Regions from separate parts of the Homo sapiens genome. Here regions 2 and 3 are each linked to region 1. Evidence: fine-mapped expression QTL. A gene starts in region 1. Each other region holds a variant in brackets. All regions are shown on one strand. Distances are from middle to middle. Region 1 holds the start of CRELD1 (CRELD disulfide isomerase 1). Region 2 has its middle 7.9 kb from the start of FANCD2. Region 3 holds the start of LOC124906357 (small nucleolar RNA U13).

The links. PIP is the estimated chance that this variant, and not a neighbour inherited with it, causes the effect.
Region 2: its variant is the best candidate, but not a certain one, in a credible set for the expression of CRELD1 in adrenal gland (GTEx, PIP 0.53).
Region 3: its variant is the best candidate, but not a certain one, in a credible set for the expression of CRELD1 in whole blood (INTERVAL, PIP 0.66).

What each region holds. Positions count from the first base shown.
Region 1 is chr3:9,930,511-9,938,656 of GRCh38, forward strand. CRELD1 (CRELD disulfide isomerase 1) reads left to right here and starts at 3,324. Exons shown (of 11, transcript NM_001077415.3): 1 at 3,324-3,410; 2 at 3,910-4,102; 3 at 4,325-4,407; 4 at 7,052-7,162; 5 at 7,505-7,596. The coding sequence starts at 3,929. It overlaps IL17RC (interleukin 17 receptor C), which reads left to right. Exons shown (of 19, transcript NM_153460.4): 16 at 385-433; 17 at 2,098-2,193; 18 at 2,310-2,348; 19 at 2,443-3,111. The coding sequence ends at 3,083. RefSeq lists silencers at 2,296-2,355, 2,936-3,265 and an enhancer at 3,366-3,735.
Region 2 is chr3:10,014,425-10,022,604 of GRCh38, forward strand. It overlaps the pseudogene CIDECP1. Among named protein-coding and RNA genes, the nearest start is that of FANCD2, 7.9 kb to the right of the region's middle. The variant T/C (reference allele first, on the strand shown) is at 3,328.
Region 3 is chr3:10,127,271-10,135,450 of GRCh38, forward strand. LOC124906357 (small nucleolar RNA U13) reads left to right here and starts at 6,115; the gene lies at 6,115-6,218. The variant G/GT (reference allele first, on the strand shown) is at 3,965.

The sequences.
Region 1 (8,146 bases):
AAAACTAGCACTCACCTACTGTCTATTTAGGCTTATTTTATGTTCAGCCCTGGGAAAGTTAAGAGTAGAAGAAGCACAGTTCCTATCCCCAAGGAGCACACTGTTGGCTAGACACCCATAAACAGATAACCACACCTACAGGTGCTAAGTTTTGGGTTCCAGGGAGAGCTTCCGGGAAGAATTTCTTCCTATAAGCCAGATTTGGTATGGAAGAAGTCATACCCTAGTCAGTGGGCACAGCACAAAGGCAGAGCAGCTGCAGGAACCTTAGCCGGGAGATATGCATAGTTGATGCTGGGAATTTGGAGATCAGGCCACCAGAGCTTGGTGAATATTGGAACACCTGGCTGGTGCCCTGGATTTGGTTCTGTTTGTATCTTACAGCTATGGGACGATGACTTGGGAGCGCTATGGGCCTGCCCCATGGACAAATGTGAGTATTGTAAGAACTGCCTTTCCTTTCTGTACCAGGAGTGGGGATCTTGACAGGGACCACTCTTGGGCACAGCACATGCAATGGCCTTGTCCTTCCCTGAGATCAGATAAACAGAGGGTCATTCCTTCATTCACTCAAAAAATGATGAGAGCTTGCAGGGATCGCAGGAACACCAAAAATATAAATCCTTGCCCCCGCCCCACCCCTAGAAGACTAGCAAGACATGAGCCAGTCACTTACATTTAAAGTGGGAGCTACTGAAGCACCACCAAGTGTTCAGTGCTGTAAATGCATACAATGTGGACCTGACCTGGGTGGGGTGAGGGGTGAGGGGCTCAGGGGGAAGGTTCCAGCAAAACTCTGAAGACTGAGCTAGGGGAAGGGGGTAGAGATACAGGGTCTTGGACAGGCAGGTTTCTGTCATGAGATAAAGATGCAGGAGACATGTAGGGGATTTGGATCTTATGTTGAGAGCAGCAGGAGCTACGATCAAATTTTTATATATTTCACACACACACACACACATATATATATATATATATATATATATATATATACTTATTTTTTTATTTATTTTTGAGGCAGAGTCTCACTCTGTTGCCCAGGCTGGAGTGCAATGGCGCGATCTCGGCTAACTGCAACCTCTGCCTCCCGGGTTCAAGCAATTCTCTACCTCAGCCTCCCGGGTAGCTGGGATTAATAGGCGCCTGCCACCATGCCCTGCTAATTTTTGTATTTTTAGTAGAGATGGGGTTTCACCATCTTGGCCAGGCTGGTCTTGAACTCCTGACCTCGTGATCCGCCCGCGTCGGCCTCCCAAAGTGCTGGGATTATAGTCGTGAGTCACCGCACCTGGCCCAAATTTATATTTTTAAAAGATCTCTGAGGCTGTCATGAATCAATTCAAGGCAAATCAATTGGAGGTAAAAAAAAAAAAAAAAAGACAGGGCAGGGACACCAGGTAGTTGCAGACACCCAGGACAGCAAGATCAAGGGCCCAGCAACCCTAGCTTAGGGGAGAAAAACAGCTGACATTTTAGCACTTAAGATGCTCGGCATTGTGTTAAGTATGTATTAACACATTGTGTTAAGCTTTATATGTATTAATATATTTAGTCCTCACACCAACCCTATGACACAGGTACAACTTTACAGAGGAGAAAACTGAGGCAGAGGGTGACATTACTTATTCAAAGACCCCTAAACAGATGGAGCTATATTCATCCACTGGCTCTGACACTGTGCTGTGGACTCTGGGCAAATCATTTCTTCGTTTTTTGTTTTGTTTTGTTTTGTTTTGAGAGGAGTCTCACCCTGTCGCCCAGGCTGGAGTGCAATGGCGCGATCTCGGCTCACTGCAACCTCTGCCTCCCGAGTTCAAGCGATTCTCTTGCCTCAGCCTCCCGAGTAGCTGGGATTACAGGCGTGTGCCACCACGCCCGGCTAATTTTTTGTATTTTTAGTAGAGACGGGGTTTCACCGTGTTAGCCAGGATGGTCTTGATGTCCTGACCTCGTGATCTGCCCGCCTCGGCCTCCCGAAGTGCTGGGATTATATAAAGGCATGAGCCACCGCACCCGGCCCAATTCATTTCTGTTAAGTCTCAGTTTTTCTTCTCTGTGGAGGGTAAGTTTCTAACTCTTCTTCTCTGGGTCTCCCAGACATCCACAAGCGCTGGGCCCTCGTGTGGCTGGCCTGCCTACTCTTTGCCGCTGCGCTTTCCCTCATCCTCCTTCTCAAAAAGGATCACGCGAAAGGTGAGCGCTTCCCGGCTCCCCATTCCCCTGGGGGAGGACCAGAGTGGCTGTGGGAGTTCTCCGAGGGAAAGCGGCGGCCGAGCTCACTGGCTGCCTCCGCCCCTCTCCCCTAACAGGGTGGCTGAGGCTCTTGAAACAGGACGTCCGCTCGGGGGGTGAGTGGGAGCAAGCGCTGGGCGGAGGGCCGCCCCCGGGGAGCCAGGCCTGTGCCAGCTCACCTCTTCCCTCCCCATCTGTTTTCTCCGGCAGCGGCCGCCAGGGGCCGCGCGGCTCTGCTCCTCTACTCAGCCGATGACTCGGGTTTCGAGCGCCTGGTGGGCGCCCTGGCGTCGGCCCTGTGCCAGCTGCCGCTGCGCGTGGCCGTAGACCTGTGGAGCCGTCGTGAACTGAGCGCGCAGGGGCCCGTGGCTTGGTTTCACGCGCAGCGGCGCCAGACCCTGCAGGAGGGCGGCGTGGTGGTCTTGCTCTTCTCTCCCGGTGCGGTGGCGCTGTGCAGCGAGTGGCTACAGGATGGGGTGTCCGGGCCCGGGGCGCACGGCCCGCACGACGCCTTCCGCGCCTCGCTCAGCTGCGTGCTGCCCGACTTCTTGCAGGGCCGGGCGCCCGGCAGCTACGTGGGGGCCTGCTTCGACAGGCTGCTCCACCCGGACGCCGTACCCGCCCTTTTCCGCACCGTGCCCGTCTTCACACTGCCCTCCCAACTGCCAGACTTCCTGGGGGCCCTGCAGCAGCCTCGCGCCCCGCGTTCCGGGCGGCTCCAAGAGAGAGCGGAGCAAGTGTCCCGGGCCCTTCAGCCAGCCCTGGATAGCTACTTCCATCCCCCGGGGACTCCCGCGCCGGGACGCGGGGTGGGACCAGGCGCGGGACCTGGGGCGGGGGACGGGACTTAAATAAAGGCAGACGCTGTTTTTCTACCCATGTGGCCCACACGCGTCTCCGTTTCAGTGGCGGGGCTGGCAAACGTCATTCCCTAGCCCCGCGGCCCTTTAAAGCCCGGACAGGTGCAGCTCGGTGCCGCCTCTGGTTGGCTGGCGTGGGGTGACGTAATGGCACATGGCCCGTCGCCATTGGCTGGGCGGCAAGCTCCGCCCCCTGGACTGCGGCGCGGGTGGGGGTTGTGCGTTTTACGCAGGCTGTGGCAGCGACGCGGTGAGGAGACGGCCCACGGCGCCCGCGGGCTGGGGCGGTCGCTTCTTCCTTCTCCGTGGCCTACGAGGGTCTGGATCCTTCTCTGCCGGCTCGTGGGCCGTGCCTTTGCCCTTCTGCGAGGCCCTGAATCTGATCCCTTCCCTTCATATCCGGATCCGGGCTCCTCCCTCCAAGCCCGGGGTTCCGGACACCTCCCCCAAGACAACCCCTCTGGCCTCCTCTCCTTCAGTACTTGGAATCTGATCTCTTCTCCCTAATTCTGCGGATCCGGCCCCTAATATTCTTTATCAGACCCTCAGACAAGAGGCTGACTTCTGCCCCCTTGTCAAGGAGCGAGGCCACTTTCCTCTCCACCCCATGCTAGCGAGGATAACTTATTTCTCTTCTGGAATTGCATCTTATGCGCCTTTCCCCACCCATCCCCACAGCCCCTGCAATACCCAGTTTGGCCTCTTTTGCTTGTAATAACGCAGATCCCAGCGCCACGGCACCTTAGAACAGACCTTTTTCTTTCTCGCGTGGGGCCTGACTCCTTCAGTGAAGCCTCTCCACGCCCTCTATCTGCAGGTCCCCAGCCTGGGTAAAGATGGCCCCATGGCCCCCGAAGGGCCTAGTCCCAGCTATGCTCTGGGGCCTCAGCCTCTTCCTCAACCTCCCAGGACCTATCTGGCTCCAGCCCTCTCCACCTCCCCAGTCTTCTCCCCCGCCTCAGCCCCATCCGTGTCATACCTGCCGGGGACTGGTTGACAGCTTTAACAAGGTGGGTGCACCGGCAGCCTCGTTAGAGGGGAACACAGCGATTTAGAGTGGGGAACTCTGGGATGCAAATCTGCGTGGATTTAAGTTTCATCTTGGTCTCTTACTAGTTGTATGGCCCTAGGCAGGTTGCCTTTCTGTGCCTCAGTTTCCTAGTCAGTAGAACAGTGAAGTGCTAGCATGTGCCAGGCACTGTACTTAGCTATTACTAATTTTCTGTTTCCAGGGCCTGGAGAGAACCATCCGGGACAACTTTGGAGGTGGAAACACTGCCTGGGAGGAAGAGAATTTGTCCAAATACAAAGACAGGTAAGGGGCTGCTGGGGGAAGGGGTGTATATTCCCCTCCCCGCCAAATCTCTGCTCTGCTGGTGTAGGGCTAGGAACTCTTGGGGAGCACTTATTCATTCAACAAATAGCACTGAACATCTATAGTATAGCAGTAAACAAGGCAAGCAAAATGCCCCCTTCCTGGAGCTCACATTCTAGTAGAGAAGACAAGCAGTGAATGAGTAAGTGAATAATATTATGTCAGATGAAGAACAAACAGTGAAGCACGGTAGACTGCAGGACGGTGGGAGGCAAGGTGTTCAAGGTTTGGCATTTGAACAGAGAGACAGGAAGTGAAGAAGCGAGCTATGTGACAGGGAGGGAATTGGGCAGAGGATGGGACTGAGCTTGGTGTATTTGAGAAGTGGCTGGAGTGGAGTGAGCCAAGGGGAGAGTGCTAGAAGGTGAAGGCAAAGGCTTAAGCCTCGAGGGCTACAGAAAAGAGTTTAGATTTTTTTTGGAGTGTAATGGGAAGCTCTTGGAAGGCTATGAGCAGAAAAAGTGATACTGTCTTCTCTACACCTTTAAAGATTACTCACACTGCTATGTAGCAAACGGATTGTAAGGGGCAAGGGCGGAGGAAGCAGGGAGACCAGTTTGGGAGGCAAGTGCATCATCTAGGTACAAAGGCAACACAAGCTAGTGTGGTATCTAGTGGAGGACATGATGAAGAGGTCACAGTCTGGGTATATTTTGCAGAGAGAACAATAGGACCTGGTGATAGATTCATTATGGGTATAGAGAAACAGTAGAATAAAAGATGCTTACTAGATTTTGGGCCTGAGCAACTGGGTGAGTAGTGCAGCTGTTTTCTAAGATGGTGAGATGCGAAACCGAGAAGGTTTAGGGGAGGGGTGGGATGTGGTGTTCTTTGAACGTATTGGGCTGAAATGTCCATTAGACATCCAGGTAGACTCCATACAAATCTGGAATTCAGAAAAGAGTAGGAATTGGAAACAGGAATTTGAGAGTTGTCATTATATAGTCAGTATGTAAAGAAAGCCATGGGAAGGATACAGAAAGCCATTATATAGTCAATATATGTAATACAGAAAGCCATTTATATAGTCAGTATGTAAAGAAAGGCATGGGAAGGATACAGAAAGGCGAGCCCTGAGCCCTCCAGCTTTTCAAAGTCAGATGGAAGAGGAGTCAGCAAAGGCTCAGAGTTAGACCTGGTTGTCGGTTCTTAACCTCTCAGAGCCACAGTTTCTTCACCTGTAAAATGGGGATATTAATACCTGGTTTGCCTATTTCATAGAAGTGTGGAAAAGGCTTAACTGGGATGCCCACTAGAAATAAAGGTTTTGTTATTATGTAACATTGGTCATTTTCTCTTTTCCTTCGCCGGGCCTGAGTTTCCTCATTCAGGAATGAGGGGATTGGCTAAGACAACCCCAGAGGCACTTCCAGCTTTGTAATGGCTCCTGCGTTGCTTGCTTTTTTAAATCACCTCCTATATGCCAGGCACTGTGCCAGACCCTTTAAATACAGGATATAAGACATCAAATATTTATATATGTGTGTATATATATGTGTGTGTGTATATATATATGTGTGTGTATATATATGTGCATATATGTCTGCGTATATATATGTGCGTATATATATGCGTATATATATATATATATGTATATATTTGTGGTAAAATACACATAAAAAATTTCCCATTAAAGACATTTAATAATATTTACAATGTTGTGTAACCATCACCACTATGTAGTTCCAGAACATTTTCATTACCCCCCCAAAAAATCCTATACCTATTACACAGCCACTCCCTATTCTCCCCTTCCCTCGGCTCTTGGCAATCACTAATTTGTGTTAGTCAAGCAGAAATTATGGATTTGCTGATTTCATTGGAATCATAAAATATGTGGCCTTTTGTGTCTGGCTAGTTTCACTTAGCATAATGTTTTCAAGGTTCACCCATACCGTAGCATATATCAATACTTATTCCTTTTTATGGCTGAATAATATTCTCATTTGGCTGTACCACATTTTGTTTAACCATGCATCAGTTGATGGACATCTGCATTGTTTCTACCTTTTGGCTGTTGTGAATAGTGCTGCTATGAACATTGTCTACAAGTTTTCGTTTGAACACCTGTTTTCCATTCTTTTGGGTCTATATCCAGTAGTGGAATTGGCAGGTCCTATGGCAATTCCATGTTTTACTTATTGAGGAACTGCTTTTCCACAGTGGTGATGCCATTTTGTATTCCCACCTGCAGTGTGGGAGGATTCTAATTTCTCCACATCCCTGCCAACACTTGTTATAGGATGTATTTTTAGCCATATCTACCCAGCAAGGGTATTATATTCCATTGCTCAGATGCAGGAACTGATGTATGTTACAACAAACCTGCAGGGAAGGTATTGTCATCCCCATTTTACAGATGACAAAACAAAGAGGTTCAGAGAGGTTAAGTGACTTGCCCACTAGATCTACCACTAGATTTGAACCCAGGTCTCTCTGCTTCCCAGAACCATGACCCCTTCCATTATACCTCATGGCCTCTCCTTTGATATTTTCACCGCACGAGGAAGGGTGGAGAGAGACTTGAGGAGGGTGGTGGGTGGGGTGGGGCATGTTTCCCACCAGCCCTGCCCTGTCCGATCAGTGAGACCCGCCTGGTAGAGGTGCTGGAGGGTGTGTGCAGCAAGTCAGACTTCGAGTGCCACCGCCTGCTGGAGCTGAGTGAGGAGCTGGTGGAGAGCTGGTGGTTTCACAAGTGAGTGGCAAAGGGCCTTCCCTGGAAGTGGGTCACAGGTGAGGCCTGGTGATAAGGCCTGATTTGGCCGAGAAGCAGGGGGGTGCATGCTGGGGCCCATGTCCTGGTTGTGCTCCTTCCAAACCCAGGTCTGCTAAGAACTTGCCGGGGGACTTGCGCTCCACTTTGAGCCTCAGTTTACCCTTCTGCCAAATGGGGAAAGGGCATTGGTCAGATGGCCTTTTGGGTCTTATGTCCAAGCTGGGTTGAATCACAGATTCAGGCATGGGGGAATGGGAACAGCACTTATGACACTATCTCAGCACCTCCTCCCCACCTCCCTCCACCCTGCCCCTGCCTCAGGCAGCAGGAGGCCCCGGACCTCTTCCAGTGGCTGTGCTCAGATTCCCTGAAGCTCTGCTGCCCCGCAGGCACCTTCGGGCCCTCCTGCCTTCGTGAGTTTTTAAGTTGCTCTTGGGGATGGGAGGGGACCACCGAGTCCAGGGATCCAGTCCTGGCTCTGTCCCTAGTTCGCTGTGTGAACTCAGGCTACTCAGATAAACTTCTCTGGACCTCAGTTCTTGCCTGCCTGACAGGGCTGGGGAGATGGGCAAATCAGTGGGGAAAGGCTTGGAGAAAGCACAGGGGCTAGACTGAGTCATATGCAGTATAGTTATCATCATGTACTAAAGAAATGATAGACTTCCCAGCCCCTTCATTTCCCATGCCAGATCGGACTATGGTACCTTCCTGGGGAGGGGCGGGTGCTGACCTGGAGCCTCCATGATCGCCATCCATCCTCACACACAGTCCTGGCACAAGAGCTGAACTTACTACCAGCCTCTTTTAGAGCAGTCTTTCCTGAAGCTACAGATAAAGAGCTAGCTACAAAGATGGCAAATTCAGTCTTTGTAAAAGAAAATATTGGCTGGGCGCGGTGGCTCACACCTGTAATCCCAACACTTTGGGAGGCTGCGGTGGGTGGATCATGAGGTCAGGAGATCG
Region 2 (8,180 bases), 84 kb after region 1:
ACTTGTAAATAATACATTTTATTGTACATAAATTATGTCAATAAACAATGTTTTCAAAATATCAGTTATTGAAATGATGTGCACAGGCCAGGCATGATGGTTCACACCTGTAATCCCAGCACTTTGGGAATCCAAGGCACTTTGAGAAGCCGAGGCGGGCAGATCTTTTGAGGCCAGAAGTTCGAGACCAGCCTGGCTAAGTGAAACCCCAACTCTACTAAAAATACAAACATTAGCCCAGCATGGTGGTGCACAGTCCCAGCTACCTGGAAGGCTGAGGCACAAGAATCTCTTGAGCCTGAGAGGCGGAGGTTGCAGTGAGCCGAGATCATGCCACTGCACTCCAGCCTGGGCAACAGAGCAAGACTCCATCTCAAATAAAATAGAATTACGTGCACAAGAGCCGGGTGTGGTGTCTCACGCCTGTAATCCCAGCACTTTCGGAGGCTGAGGCAGGTGGATCACCTGAGGTCAGGAGTTTGAGACCAGCCTGGCCAATATGGCGAAACCCCATCTCTATGAAAAATATAAAAATTACCTGGGCGTGGTGGTGGGTGCCTGTAATCCCAGCTACTTGGGAGGCTGAGGCAGAAGAATTGCTTGAACCCAGCAGGCAGAGGTTGCAGTGAGCTGAGATCGTGCCACTGCACTCCAGCCTGGGTGACAAGAGTGAGACTCTGTCTCAAAGAAAAGAAACAAAAAATTATGTACACAAATATGGACAGCACTGGCAAGAAGTGTGGCAAAAACACATGTGGTTCTCTTGTTTTGGGCTCAGACATGTGGCTGTGCCATTACAGACCCCCGGGATTTAGAATCCTCCTTCTGAAAGGCGTCCTGTGCACTCGTGAGCACCAGCCTGAACAGATGAAAAGGCTGAGCTGGAGGGGCTGGGACACAGCCCACCTTGACGACAGCTGCTCCTGGCTGTGCGGGGGGGTCTCCAGGAAAGGCCATTCTCCCACTAGGATCGCCAGGCCCTACTGAGGCTCAAGCTCCTTTGCTGTTTGGAATCTTCCCTCCCCAGCCCCCCAGCCTCATCAAAGGCTGCCTTTTCCTGTTCACTGACCACAGCTGCTTTGACTCCATTAGCCTCGAGCTCCTGGAAGAAAAGGAAGAACGTTGTTTTCCCTGGGCTCAATGCCAAGAGACCGTGGGCAGTTGCTCAAGATTCACTTGTGAAACTCCGGATCCCAGGAGGAGGGAAGCTTGGGACAAATACCGAGCCTCCCACCCCCACTCCAACTCTGTTACTGAGCACTTTACGGAAGGAGCACGTAGGCCCCGCCACAGCTTCGGCAAGGGTGGACTGGGATAGATTCTGTGCTAATACAAACATCAGGCCTCCCTGCCAGACGGCCCACCCCATGGAGCCAGCCTGACACCAGGCCAGCCTCCAGCCACAACTGCAAGAGAAGGAGAGCCCAGAATAGCAGGCCCTCTTCAGTGAGCTTCAGCAGCTTCACCCACAGGTTGCAGGGTTTGGGTCCGCTGCCAGAAATAGCTCCCAGACCATCTTTGGTAATACAGACCTTTGCCTTAGTATTTACTACATCCAAATAGGCTTTATAGTAAGAGTTGTAAAACGATTGGTTTTGTTTTATTTTTCGTTTTTTTTTTGTTTGTTTGTGTTTTTTTTTTGAGACGGAGTCTCACTCTGTCGTCCAGGCTAGAGTGCAATGGCACGATCTTGGCTCACTGCAACCTATGCCTCCCAGGTTTAAGCAATTCTCCTGCCTCAGCCTCCCAAATAGCTGGGATTACAGATGCCTACAAGCATGCCTGGTTAATTTTTTGTATTTTAGTAGAGAGAGGGTTTGGCCATGTTGGCCAGGCTGGTCTCCAGCTGCTGACCTCAGGTAATCCACCTGCCTTGGCCTCCCAAAGTGCTGGGATTACAGGCATGAGCCAGCACGCCCAGCCTAAATTCAGCCTTTCATGCTTGTCTTGAGTTGTCCAATATTGGAAAATGCCAGCTCACACTGATGAGAAGCTCCTACTCTTTGGGGCTACCTATGAGCCCACTTTGAAATCCCGAGGTTGAAAGTCCTGAACATGAAAGATAAGCTGTCTGGCAAGTTAGGATGGGCATTGACGGGGAAATGCCTTACAGCTTGAGTAGTACTTTTTCACCTAACCACTTAAATGGTTATTATAAAACGGGACACTGAGAAATTAGAAGAGTGACTTAATCCCACCTGCTCAATTGAAGCTCCTCTGATAGGTGAATTTAATTAGGAAATTGTTACTTATGGTATCAATTACATGGTCAGCTCAAGCCTCAAATTTAGCCGACTTTAGTTTCAAAATCAAATGCAATTTTTTTTTTTTTTTTGAGACAGAGTCTCGCTCTGTCGCCCAGGCTGGAGTGCAGTAGTGCGATCTCGCCTCACTGTAAGCTCCGCCTCCTGGGTTCACGCCATTCTCCTGCCTCAGCCTCTCCGAGTAGCTGGGACTACAGGCACCCGCCACCACGCCTGGCTAATTTTTTTTTTGTATTTTTAGTAGAGACAGGGTTTCACTGTGGTCTCGATCTCCCAACCTCGTGATCCGCCCGCCTGGGCCTCCCAAAGTGCTGGGATTACAGGCGTGAGCCACTGCACCCGGCCTGCAAATTTTTTTTTTTTTTTTTTTTTTATACTTTAAGTTTTAGGGTACATGTGCACAATGTGCAGGTTAGTTACCTATGTATACATGTGACATGCTGGTGCGCTGCACCCACTAACTCGTCATCTAGCACTAGGTATATCTCCCAATGCTATCCCTCCCCCCTCCCCCCACCCCTGCAATTTTGTTTTTTAAAGAGCCTGGGCTCTTGCTATTGTGCCCCGGGCTGGCCTTGAACTCCTGGTCTCAAGGGATGCTCCCACCACAGCCTGCTGAGTAGCTGGGACTGCAGGCACGTGTCACTGTGCTCAGCTTTTTTTTTTTTTCCCCCCTTTGGTAGAAAAACTATTATTTGTAATCTTATGTTATGGAGAATAGTTTGACAACAGATTCATCTCTTCCTTTAGCCCTCTCCAACCTTCCAGCTAGAACCCCACCCCAAAGAACACAGGCAAAGATACATCAGCATCAATAATTTATTGCAAACTCCCTAATATCACATGCTAGTATGCTTGCGAATTCACTCACGAATGTTCTGGGATGGGGGCCAGAAGGTAGAGAGCACCATGAAAGTACAGCCTGTGAGGCCGGACTGCTGAGGGGCAGACTTCATGCCAATGGAGGGACAGACTTCAGGACCAGTCTGGATGGGCTAAGCTACCTTGGGCAGGAAGGAGCTGGGCCAGGCCAGGAGCCTGAGGTTCTCCTTTGGCCAACCCA[T/C]CCCAGGTTTCCAGCCCCTCCTCCTCACTCAGGGTCCTGTGTGGTGAGGGAGGTGTCGGGAGGTTAGCGGCTCTACAGCTGCCAGGCTTGTGGCCACTACCAGTTGAGCGTGGGGCCCCTAGTCTAGTCCTTCACTGGGGAAAGCTAGGGCTTGGGCTTTCACTGCAGTATCTTCAGACAGGTCGGGATGAGGGATGAGGCCTTGCCCTTGGGGGGATGCCCGTCCTCTGTGGCATCGAGGAGCTGCTGCAGGTAACAGGAGGTGAAGCAGCACGTGGCCCGTGGCTTGCATGCTGAAAAGGGCCCAGTGGAGAGCTTCCCTGGGTGGAATGAGAGGGCACGCAAGTCAAAACCACGAAGTAGGTTGGGCGTAGTGGCTCATGCCTGTAATCCTAACACTTTGGGAGGCCGTGGTGGGTGAGTCACCTGAGGTCAGGAGTTTGAGACCAGTGTGGCCAACATGGTAAAACCCTGTCCCTACTAAAAACACAAAAATTAGTCAGGCCTGCTGGTGGGCGCCTATAATTCCAGCTACTTGAGAGCCTGAGGCAGGAGAATCGCTTGAACCCAGGAGGCGGAGGTTGCAGTGAGCTGAGATGATGCCACTGCACTCCAGCCTGGGTGACAGAGCAAGACTCTGTCTCAAAAAAACAAAACAAAACAAACAAACAAAAAAACCACCACCATCACCAACAACAACAAAACAAAGCTGGGCTCAGTGGCTCACGCCTGTAATCCTAGCACTTTAGGAGGCTGAGGCGGGCAGATCACTTGAGGTCAGGAGTTTGAGACCAGCCTGGCCAACATGGTGAAACCCCGTCTCTACTAAAAAATACAAATAAATTAGCCAGGTGAGGTGGCACACAGCTGTAATCTCAGCTACTTGGGAAGCTGAGGCATGAGAATCGCTTGAACCCGGGAGACAGAGGTTGAAGTGAGCTGAGATTGCACCACTGCGCTCCAGCCTGGGCAACAGAGCGTCTCAAAAACAAGTAAGAATAAAACATAAGTGTACACCTCCCTACAACCCATTATTCCCATGTTGGCCTGGAAGGGATTGGTTTCATTATGTTTGTTTTCTTCATTAATAACATTTGAATACCACTGAGGTGGTAGCACTAAAAGCATTTCATCAATTCTAGAGCAATGTGCAAATAGGAACAGATGCTGCAGATGGGATCAGGATTAGGGCGAGGACCTGCAATTCCACCTTAACTGAGATGCCCGGAACCTCCCTACTTTCTCATGCAAAACCCCAGCTCATTTCATATGGCTTTCTATTTTTCTACTACTACTTTGGTCCAGCCAGATTAATCTCCATAATGTGGCTCTGCCCTTGAGACACTCTGTTCTAGACTCTGAGGCCTTTCTAAGTCACCTGCAGTCTAGCTCATGTTCAGAGTGCTGGACATGAAGACATCCATGCCTGGCATGAGCATGTACTGAGAACTGAACCTGAATCAGGCAGGCCTAAGTCCTAATCCAGTCTTATTAGCTGGGTGAACTTCAGCAAACTGCTCTAGTTTTGAGCTTCAGCTCCCTCATGGGTAAAATGGGATTGCACCTGCCACCCAGGGTCATAAGGCTGAAATAGCATAAAGCAATTAACGTGGGGTTGGATATTTGAAAAGTAGGGGAAATGGGGAAGCGGGGGCAGGTTCAAGAGCAGCTGGTTGAATGCTAGACAACTTTGGCTAGGTGCACTGGCTCAGGCCTATAATTCCAGCATTTTGGGAGGCCGAGGAGGATGGCTTGAGGCCAGGAGTTTGAGACCAGCCTGGTCTAGTGAGACCTTGTCTCTACAAAAGTATTAAAGAACTAGCCAAGCATGGTAGCACACACTTGTGCTACTCAGGAGGATCACTTGAGCCTACGAGGTTAAGGCTGCAGTGAGCCATGATTGCACCACTGCACTGTAGCCTAGATGACAGAGTGAGACGCTGTCTCTAAAAAAATATAAAGAATGCTAGATAATTTTAATCAAATTCTTACCAAATCTGTTTGAAAGGGGAATGTGAGGGTCACTCGAGGTGTCTAGTCCTAAGTGAGATAGGGGAGTGGAAAATAAAAGGCAAAGAAATGTTACCTGGCTGTTGTTCAAACTTTAGTCTTTTATTAACATTCATTCAATAAGTGAATTTATGGTCTGACTGGGGTGTGGGTGGCAGAAAGACTTAGAACTATTCACATCTACACAAGAGAATACTTTATATTTTCAAGGTTATAACTTAGAAGTATACCCACTTCTCAAATTAAGGAACTGAGGCTGACAACCTAGCTGACCAGCCTTAAAAAGGAATGAAATTCTGAGGTCGGCCAGGCGTGGTGGCTCAGGCCTGTAATCCCAGCACTTTGGGAGGCCGAGGCGGGCGGATCACGAGGTCAGGAGATCGAGACCATCCTGGCCAAAACGGTGAAACCCTGTCTCTACTAAAAATACAAAAATTAGCCGGGCGTGGTGGCACGTGCCTGTAATCCCAGCTACTCGGGAGGCTGAGGCAGGAGAATCGCTTGAACCCGGGAGTCAGAGGTTGCAGTGAGCTGAGATCGTGCCATTGCACTCCAGCCTGGCGACAGAATGAGACTCTGTCTCAAAAAAAAAAAAAAAAAAGAAAAAAAGAAAGAAATTCTGAGGCCGGGCACGGTGGCTCACGCCTGTAATACCAGCACTTTGGGAGGCTGAGGTGGGCAGATCACAAGGTCAGGAGTTCAAGACCAACCTGGCCAGGATGGTGAAACCGTGTCTCTACTCAAAAAATACAAAAAAATTAGCCGGGCATGGTGGCGGGCTGCTCGGGAGGCTGAGGCTGCTTGAACCTGGAAGGCAGAGGTTGTAGTGAGCTGAGATCGCGCCACTGCACTCCAGCCTGGGTGACAGAGTGAGACTCCATCTCAAAAAAAAAAAAGGAATGAAATTCTGATCCATACTGCAATATGAACGACCCTTGAAAATCCGAAGTCAAGGAAGCTAGAAATGAAGAACGAGTATTGACTGACTCCAGTTCCATATGGTACTAGAATTGGCAAACATAGAAAGTGGAGTGGAGGCTACCAGTGTCTGGAGGAGGAATGGAGACTTAGTGCTTCAGGGGGACAGAGTTTCTGGTTAAGATGATGCAAGAGGTCTAGAAATGGATGGTGGTGATGGCTGGGCAACATTGTGAACGTACTTAATGGCACTGAATTGTACACTTAAAATGGTCCAAACAATAGATTTTATGCTATACATATTTACTATAATTAAAAAAAACCTAGTGATACCACTAAGTCACTAAACTGATTCCAGTCACCAGACTGTGTTTAGGTCGAAGTGTCCCACCTCCCCTAACTGGACTGAGTTTAAGGTCTGAGACCTTTTCTTTTTCTGAGACAGAGTCTTATTCTGTCGCCCAGGCTGGAGTACAATGGTGTGATCTCGGCTCACTGCAACCTTCACATTCCAGTTTCCAGTGATTCTCCTGCCTCAGCCTCCTGAGTAGCTGGGATTACAGCAGTGTGTCACCACGCCCGGCTAATTTTTGTATTTTTAGTAAAGACGGGGGTTTCACCTTGTTGCCCAGGCTGGTCTCGAACTCCTGACCTCAGGTGATTCACCTCCCTCGGCCTCCCAAAGTGCTAGGATTACAGGTGTGAGCCACTGCCCCCAGCTGGTCTGAAACTTCTTGTTCATAATTTTGAAATAATGCAGACTACTGGTGGTAGGTAGTCTGAGGTCAAGAGGTGGCATGAGATGGTAGTATCCTGGAAGAAGTAGCCGAGGAGGAAAATGGAACTCTCAGCCACAGAACCAGGCTCAAGCCTGCCACCCACTGTTGTCTCTGGCAAGCAGACCCACACAGCCTCAGTTTCCTCAACTGCAGATTGGGTCTGCAGGAGATCAACTAAGAAAGCAAGAAGGTCTGATATGTTCTAGCTACATGTGATCTGGTAGAACTCTTGGGATCCTGAGCAGGATTTCTCAGAAGCCCCATGTGAATAGAGATCGCCTGTGTCTTCATTTATTCTACAATCATTTAAATAACTACTATGTGTCAGCATTCACCAAGGTGCTGAAGGCCACAAAAATTCCTGCCCTCAGGGAACTTGTTCTATCTGGTATTTTGTTCATCTCTGAATCTGTAGTTACAGCATAGGGCCAGGCACACAGTGGGCACTCAGGAAACACTGAATGAAGGAACTGGAGAAGAATAGACTATCGGAAAGATGGACTAGCAGCCATGCTCTGCTGCTTGCAAGTTTTGCGGCTTTGGACTGATTCAATCACTTCAGCCTCAGTGGCTACATCCACCCAATGGGGAAGGATGCCCCAGGGCGCCACTGGAGCGGCAGAATTTGGGAAACATCACCATAACGGCATGCAGCTTCTAACCTCACATATTCTCATGCTTCCTGAGACACTTGGTTAGGCTTTCAAAATAAGTTTTAAGAAAAGTTCATTATATAGTACAAATGACTCTGGTCCATAAGACTTGCAAACTAATTCTGTCCTATGGAGGGAAGATTATTTCATCCCTCCCATCCCCATGGGAGAAAAAACCCAATTTTGTATGTATACATTTATCTCTTTTTTTCTTCTTTTTAGAGACAAGGCCTCATGCTGTTGCCCAGGCTGGAGTACACAATGGTATGGTCATATCTCACTGCAGCCTCAAACTCCTGGGCTCAGGCAATCCTCCCACCTAGCTGGGATTATAGGCACATACTACCACTGCTCCCAGCGTGCATGCCTCTCACTATGTTGCTCAGGCTGGTCTCAAACTGTGTGTGTGTGTGTGTGTGTGTGTGTGTGTATGTGTGTGTGTGTGTGTCTCTCTCTATGTTGCCCAGGGGTGTGTGTGTGTGTGTGTGTGCGC
Region 3 (8,180 bases), 200 kb after region 1:
CACAAGCTAAGTGTCTACTCTTTGAAAAGCAGATAGCCGGGTTCAGTGGCTCAGGCCTGTAATCCCAGCACTTTGGGAGGCTGAGGCGGGTGGATCACAAGGTCAGGAGATCGAGACCATCCTGGCTAACACGGTGAAACCCCAGCTCTACTAAAAAAAGATACAAAAAAAATTAGCTGGGAGTGGTGGTGGGCACCTGTAGTCCCAGCTACTCGGGAGGCTGAGGCAGGAGAATGGCCTGAACCCGGGAGGCGGAGCTTGCAGTGAGCTGAGATCGCGCCACTGCACTCCAGCCTGGGCGACAGAGTGAGACTCCATCTCAAAAAAAAAAAAAAGTCTACCTCAAGCCAAATTTCCCCCTGAAAGTTCTCCTGGACTTGACTTTTTCATTTAGTATTGCCCTTTTCCTCTTCTCAGTTCCTCCCAATCCTACCATGCTGACACTGTGCTTCAGCTCTGGATTTGATCTTGATATGGATTTATCTCTGATTTAGCATGTGCATCCTAGAATAGAAACGAACATCTTTGGCCAGGTGCAGTGGCTCATGCCTGTAATCCCATCACTTTGGCTGGGTGGATCACTTGAGGTCAGGAGTTCAAGACCAGCCTGGCCAACATGGCGAAACCCGGTCTCTACTAAAAATACAAAAATTAGCTGGGTATGGTCGCAGGCACCTGTAATCCCAGCCACTCAGGAGGCTGAGGTAAGAGAATTGCTTGAACCTGCAGAGATTGCAGTGAGCCGAGATCACGCCACCGCACTCCAGCCTGCTGGGCGACAAAGCGAGACTGTCTCAAAAAAAAAGAAGTAGTTCTAAAGTTCAAGTTTTAGGTTATCTGGTGCCGTCAGTTTAAAAGACACATGGATTTAATAGCAGACAGGTGCTTAAAAAAAAAGCATTGAGTTCCTGCTATATGCAAGGACCAGCATGATATAGTAATAGTGGCAAAAGTGATGGTATACTAGGCAGAAAAAGCTCTTCTTTTTATGACATTACATGTGAAAATGCTCAGTACGTTTTTTATTGGCTTCTAGATATTAATTGGCTGGGCACAGTGGCTCATGCCTGTAATCCCAGCATTTTGGGAGGCTGAGGCAGGTGGATCACTTGAGGTCAGGAGTTTGATACCAGCCTGACCAACATGGTGAAAACCCATCTCTACTAAAAATACAAGAAAAATTAGCCAGGCATGGTGGTGCCTGCCTGTAATCCCAGCTGCTTAAGGGGCTGAGGTAGGAGAATCACTTGAACACAGGAGGCAGAGTTTGCAGTGAGCCAAGATCGCACCACTGCACTCCAGACTGGGCAACAAGAGCAAAACTCCATCTCAAAAAAAAAAAAATCTTAATTTATTGTTATTAAAATAATATGCTCTAAACGAGTTAGTGCCCTTAATAGTACCATACTGCTAGGTGTGGTGGTGTGCGCCTGTAATCCCAGTTACTCAGGAGGCTGAGGTGGGAGGACAGCTTGAGCCTAGGAGGTCAGCACAAGCCTCAGCAACATAATGAGACCCGTCTTTATTTTTTTTTTTTAATTTTTCTATTTTTTTAGTTAGCTTTTTTTTTTTTTTTTTTGAGACAGAGCCTTGCTCTGCTGCCAGGCTGGAGTGCTGTGGCACAATTGCGGCTCACTGCAACCTCCGCCTCCCGGGTTCAAGTGATTCTCCTGCCTCAGCCTTCCAAGTAGCTGGGACTACAGGCACACGCCGCCACGCCCGGCCAATTTTTTGTATTTTTAGTAGAGACGGGGTTTCACTGTATTAGCCAGGATGGTCTTGATCTCCTGACCTCGTGATCTGCCTGCCTCAGCCTCCCAAAGTGCTGGGATTACAGGTGTAAGCCACCGCGCCCGGCAGCTCTTTTTTTCTTTTTATGTCCAGCCAACTCATCATAATTTTTTTAATTATAATTTTTTTAATCTACCTTTTTTTTTGAGACAGAGTTCGAGACCAACCTGGGCAATGTGGCAAGACCCCTATCTCCACTAAAAATACAAAAATTAACTGGGCATGGTGGCATGCACCTGTAGTCCCAGCTACTCAGGATGCTGAAGTAGGATTGCTCAAGCAATTCGCCTAGGAGGTGGAAGCTGCAGTGAGCTGGGATTGCACCACTGCACTCCATCCCGGGCAACAGAGTGCGACCTTGTCTTAAAAAAAAAAAATCTTGAGTGGAAAATGAGCTAAATTTTAAATTTTCCTCTAAGCCATTCATAGGCACCTTCAAGGGAACCTCTTCATGCCTGTATACTTTGAAATGTTTTTTACCCTATAATTTGGTTTAATTCACTTATTTACTGAAAAGCTGAAAAGTAAGAGGTTTGAACCCATGAGCTATTAGGCATAGATTGCAAGTCCCTTGATAATAAAGCAGTTTTCAGTCTGTCTTTAAAAATTAAGCTTGGGCCGGGCGCTGTGGCTCACGCCTGTAATCCCAGCACTTTGGGAGGCCAAGGCGGGCGGATCACGAGGTCAAGAGATCGAGACCATCCTGGCCAACATGGTTAAAGTGGATTTCAGAAGCAGGAAAAAATAGGGAGCTTATTGTCTGGCTGATCGTTACAGAAGTACCCAGTTCTGTCATTCCACTCTTGCTACTCAGACCTTTAACTACCCATGTTTATTTCACCAAGCTAAAGAAGTATACTACAGGTTGATGATCCCCACTCCGAAAATCTGAAATGCTTCAAAATCTAAAACTTTTTGAGCACTGACATGGCACTCAAAGGAAATGCTCATTGGAGCATTTTGTATTTCGGATTAGGGATGCTCAATGAGTACGTATATAAGGTTGTTCCAAAAGTATTTCAGATTTCCAAATGCTGAAAAAATCCCAAATCCAAAACACCTCTGGTCCCAAGCATTTCAGATAATACTCAGCCCGTACTATAAGCCACACTAAGTAGAGTACAGGCCAGGCGTGGTGACTCACACCTATAGTCCTAGCACTTTGGGAGGCTGAGGCAGGAGAATTGCTTGAGCCCAGGAATTTGAGACCAGCCTGGGCAACATAGTGCGACCCCCCTCTATAAAAGCAGTTTTTAAATTAGGAGGGTGTGGTGGCACAAGCCTATAGTCCCAGCTACTGGGAAGGCTGAAGTAGGAGGATCGCTTGAGCCCAGAAGGTCGAGGCTGCAGTGAGCTATGATCATGCCACTGCATTCCAGCCTTGGTGACAGAGTGAGACACCATCTCAAAAACATGGTGTGGGGGCTGGGTGCTGAGGCTTATGCCTCCCAGCACTTTGGGAGGCCGTGGCGGATGGATCACTTGAGGCCAGAAGTTCAACACCAGCCTGGCCAACAGCAAAACCCTGTCTCTACAATAAAAAGAAAAATAGAAAAAATAAACAAATAAACATGGTGGTGGGGACAGGAAGCCTGTTGTTCATCTCTAGGCTCTTTCCCAGTATTTATACTCAGATTCATGCTGTTGCCTGCAAAAAAGGTTGGCCCCCAGTTGCCTCTGGATAATATGATTTAGAAAATTTGCTCTGGCAGTTTGCAGACAATTGCTGCCGTAAATAATTGTTCAAAACTTCATGGCTGGGTGCAGTGGCTCACACCTGTAATCCCAGCATTTTGGGAGGCCAAGGTGGGCAGATCGCTTGAGGTCAGGAGTTCGAGACCAGCCTGGTCAATATGGTGAAACCCCATCTCTACTAAAAATGAAAAAAAAAAAAAAATTAGCCAGGCTTGATGATGTGTGCCTGTAATCCCAGCTACTCGGGAGGCTGAGGCATAAGAATCGCTCGAACCTTGGAGGTGGAATTTGCAGCAAGTTGAGGTCATGCCACTGCACTCCAGCCTGGGCAAGAGAGCTGGATTCTGTCTCAAAACAATAATAACAGCAACAACAACAACTAACATCTAAAGGCCATATGACTGTCAACTAGATTATACAATAAGAAAGGCTGATTTAGAGTTCTCAGGTTTTGTTGTTGTTGTTGTTTGTTTTTTGT[G/GT]TTTTTTTTTTTGAGACAGGGTCTTTCTTTGTTACCCAGGCTGGAGTGCAGTGGCGCAATCTTGGTTCACTGCAACCTCTGTCTCCCAGGTTCAAGCGATTCTCATGCCTCAGCCTCCTGAAGAGCTGAGATTACAGGTATGCACCACCAGGCCCAGCTAATTTTTGTATTTTTAGTAGAGACAGGGTTTCACCAGGTTGGCCAGGCTGGGGTTTCTTTATTTAATTTTTCTTTATTTATTTGTTTTTTTTGTTTTTAGAGACAGGGTCTCACTATGCTGCTTAGGCTGGTCTCAAACTCCTGGGCTCAAGCAATCTTCCCGCCTTGGCCTCCCAAAGTGTTGGGCTTACAGGCATGAGCCACTGTGCCCGGCTGGTTTATTTTCTAATGAAAAGTTACCCTGGAGGATCACTGGAGGCCAGGAGTTTAAGACCAGCCTGGGCACCATAGTGAGACACCGTATCTGCTAAAAAAAAAAAAAAAAAAAAAAAAAAAAAAAGTAAAGTCACCCTGTGCACTAAATTGGCAAAAGATTAGGACTAGCAAGAATTAAAACTCACAGAACATTAGGGTGAGAAAGAATCTTAGAGATAATCTAGTCTGCCCCTGCCATTCTAGGAATATAGAAGCAAACCCAGACAGGTTGAGTGACAGACATGTCCATCCTGGTGGCAAAGCCAAAACTAAAACCTTATTCCCAGGTCAGTGCAGAGCCACTCAGAGTCTCATAAATAAGTTTTGTGTTTTCTGTACCATACCGGCCCTCTATTAGCCTCTCCCTGGATCTCACTGATACCTTGAGAGTGCAAAAAAGCAATTGTTCGTTACATTTATCTAAGTGGTGGTATCCATTGGCATCAACATTTGCATTTAGGACAAAGTTATCTTTGGCTCCTTTGAGCTTGCTACGACTATCAAGCGTGAAGTTTGTATTGTGCCTCAGCTGCATTTTCCAACCATAACAGTTTTTAAAAAAATAATTTTATTGGATAGGTGTGGTGGCTTATGCGTGTAATCCCATTACTCTGGGAGGCTGAGATGGGAAGATTGCTTGAGCCCAGGAGTTTTGAGGACAAACTGGGCAACCCAGAGAGACCGCCACCACAAAAAATAAACACAATTAGGCGGGTGTGGTGGTGCATGCCTGTAGTCCCAGTTACTCATGGGGCTGAGGTGGGAGGATCACCTAGGCCCAGGAGGTCATGGCTGTAGTGAGCCAAGATCACACCACTGAACTTCAGCCTGGGTGACAGAGCAAGACCCTGTCTCAATAAATGAATAAATGAAATGAAATGTTTCAATTCAATAAATGATAAATGCTTCAGTGTGGCTTTCACAAACATTTTGCCTAAGAAGTTGTTTATTAGCATTAAATACATTGTATGTCTATTATGTGTGAGGCACTGGAGATAAAATGAGAAACAGACAGTTTCTACTCTTAAGGAGCTTATAGTATAGTCATTTATTCACTGTATGTTCTCAAAGCAAAAGACACTAGAATGACATTTGCAGAAAAACCTCAGGAAAACACAACATACACAAAGGAGCAATGTGGTATCAACTTCACTGCATGATAAAGATACCATAGGCCAAAATTGTATTGTACATGGAAATGATGTTTGGGTTTTTGTTGCTGTTGTTATTTTTGTTTGTTTACCATTGTAAAAGTAATATATCACCACATATACATTATGGACATACACATGCATTTGAAAAGCATTAACAATTGGCCTGAATAAATATATAAAGAACTATTAAAACTCAGCAGTAAGAAAACAGCTAAATAAATGGACGAAATATTTGAACTGACACCTTGAAGACAAAAAACAGGCTGAGCCCGGTGGCTCACACCTGTAATCCAAGCACTTTGGGAAGCCAAGGCGGGTGGATCACCTGAGTTCAGAAGTTCGACATCAGCCTGGCCAACATGGCTAAACTCCGTCTCTACTAAAAATATAAAACTAGGCCAGTTGTGGTGGTGCACATCTATAGTCCCAGCTACTCAGGAGGCTGAGGCAGGAAAATCACTTGAACCTGGGAGGCGGAGGTTGCGCCACTACTCTCCAGCCTGGGCGACAGAGTGAGAGTCTGTCTCAAAAAAAAAAAAAAAAAAAAAAAAAAAAACAAGAATGGCAAACAAAATACAACAGAGTTTTTCATAGTTCATAAGCATGATGAGTGGGTTTTCATGTTCATGTGTGAGGTGTGCCTCCCTCAAACCTTGTTATGATGTCAACACATTGCCCATCTGATGTGAGAAGAAGTAAAAAAACAGTGAAAAGGCAGTTTACAGAATGGGAGAAAACATTTGCAAATCATACATCCAATAAGGAGTTAATATTCAAAATATATAAGGACCTCAATAGCAAGGAAACGATTTTAAAATGGGCAAAGGACCTAAGTAGACATTTCTCAACAGAAGACATTAAATGGCCAAAAGATAAGTGTTGGTGAGGACGTGGAGAAAACAGAACCCTCCCAGGTTCTTGGTGGGAATGTATATTAGTACAGCCATTATGGCAAACAGTTTGGAGGTTCCTGGAAAAACTAAAAATGGAATTACCATGTGATCCAACAATCTCACTTCTGGGTATATATACATAGGAAATGAAAATCAGTATTTTGAAGAGATATCTGCACTCCCATGTTCATTGCAGCACTATTCACAATAGCCACACTATGGAATCAAGTGTCCATTGCCAGACGAATGGATAAAGAAAATGTGCGCTGGGTGCGGTGGCTCATGCCTGTAATCCCAGCACATTGGGAGGCCAAGACGGGCAGATCACTTGAGATCAGGAATTTGAGACCAGCCTGGCCAACATGGCAAAACCCCATCTCTACTAAAAATACAAAATTAGCCGGGCGCAGTGGTGGGCGCCTGTAATCCCAGTTACTCTGGAGGCTGAGGCAGGAGAATCGCCTAAACCCGGGAGGCGGAGGTTGTGGTGAGCCGAGATCGCACCATTGCACTCCAGCCTGGGCAACAAGAGCGAAACTCCGTCTCAATCAATTAATCGATCAATAAAATACGTTGAACTCACAAAAGCAGGCAGTACAATGGTGGTTGCCAGGGCCAGGGGAGTTGAGATGAAACAGGGAGATATTGGTCAAAGGGTACGAGTCACCCTTTTGGTTGGGAGGAATATATTCTGGACATCTGTTATACAGCATGATGACTATAGTTAATAAATAATGTATATTTGAAAATTGTTAAGAGTGTAGTTTTTTTTTTTTTTCTAAGACGGGGTCTTGCTCTGTCACCCAGGCTGGAGTGCAGTGGTGCGATCTCGACTCACTGCAACCTCTGCCTCCTGGGTGACAGAGCAGGAGCACTGTCATCTTGGACAAACACCACCACTTTAAGTTCCAGCTCCCTTTCTAGCCTCATACATTTCAAGGAAATCACTTCTCTTCTAACCACAAGCAGCCAGAAAGAGCAGACAGTAAAACACAGATAAGACAGCTTGGGCACAGAGGGAAGTAGGGGGAAAGTCTACTTTCCCCCTACTTGGGTAACTGGGTAACTGCCAAACTTCACCCTCATACAATGTGCCCCAGTAAAACAGTGGGCCTTAATAGGCACATTTCTTTCCCTCAGGTGCACTAAGATAGGGAAGCTAAAAGCAGACTCAGGGGACATGCCTGCAGCTGCAGAAAGATGTACGGGAACAGACAACTCTCCCGCCCAGGTAAGCACAACGAAGAGACACAGAAGCAGTCGAAGCCTCTGATAAACTCTCCCACCCTGAATCCTTAAAAACTCTGTAAGATTGTGCAGCTTCTGACCTAACTTGGTCAGAAATCCCTCCCAGGTTTGAAATAAACCTGTTGACTGTCAACCCACCCTTCATGTTTCTCTCCTTTAATTCTGACACTGGGTTCAAGCGATTCTCCTGCCTCAGCCCCCCGCGTAGCTGGGACTACAAGCACCCACCACCATGCCTGGCTAATTTTTGTATTTTTAGTAGAGACAGGGTTTCACCATGTTGGCCAAGCTGGTCTCGAACTCCAGACCTCAGATGATCTGCCTACCTTGGCCTCCCAAAGTGCTGGGCTTACAGGCATGAGCCACCGTGCCCAGCCAAAAGAGTAGATCTTAAATGTTCTCACCACAAAAAAACTGAAGTAATAAATACATTAGCTTTATTTTTTAAATTTTTAATTATTTTACAAAATAGAGATAGGGTCTCACTGTGTTGCCCAGGCTGGTCCT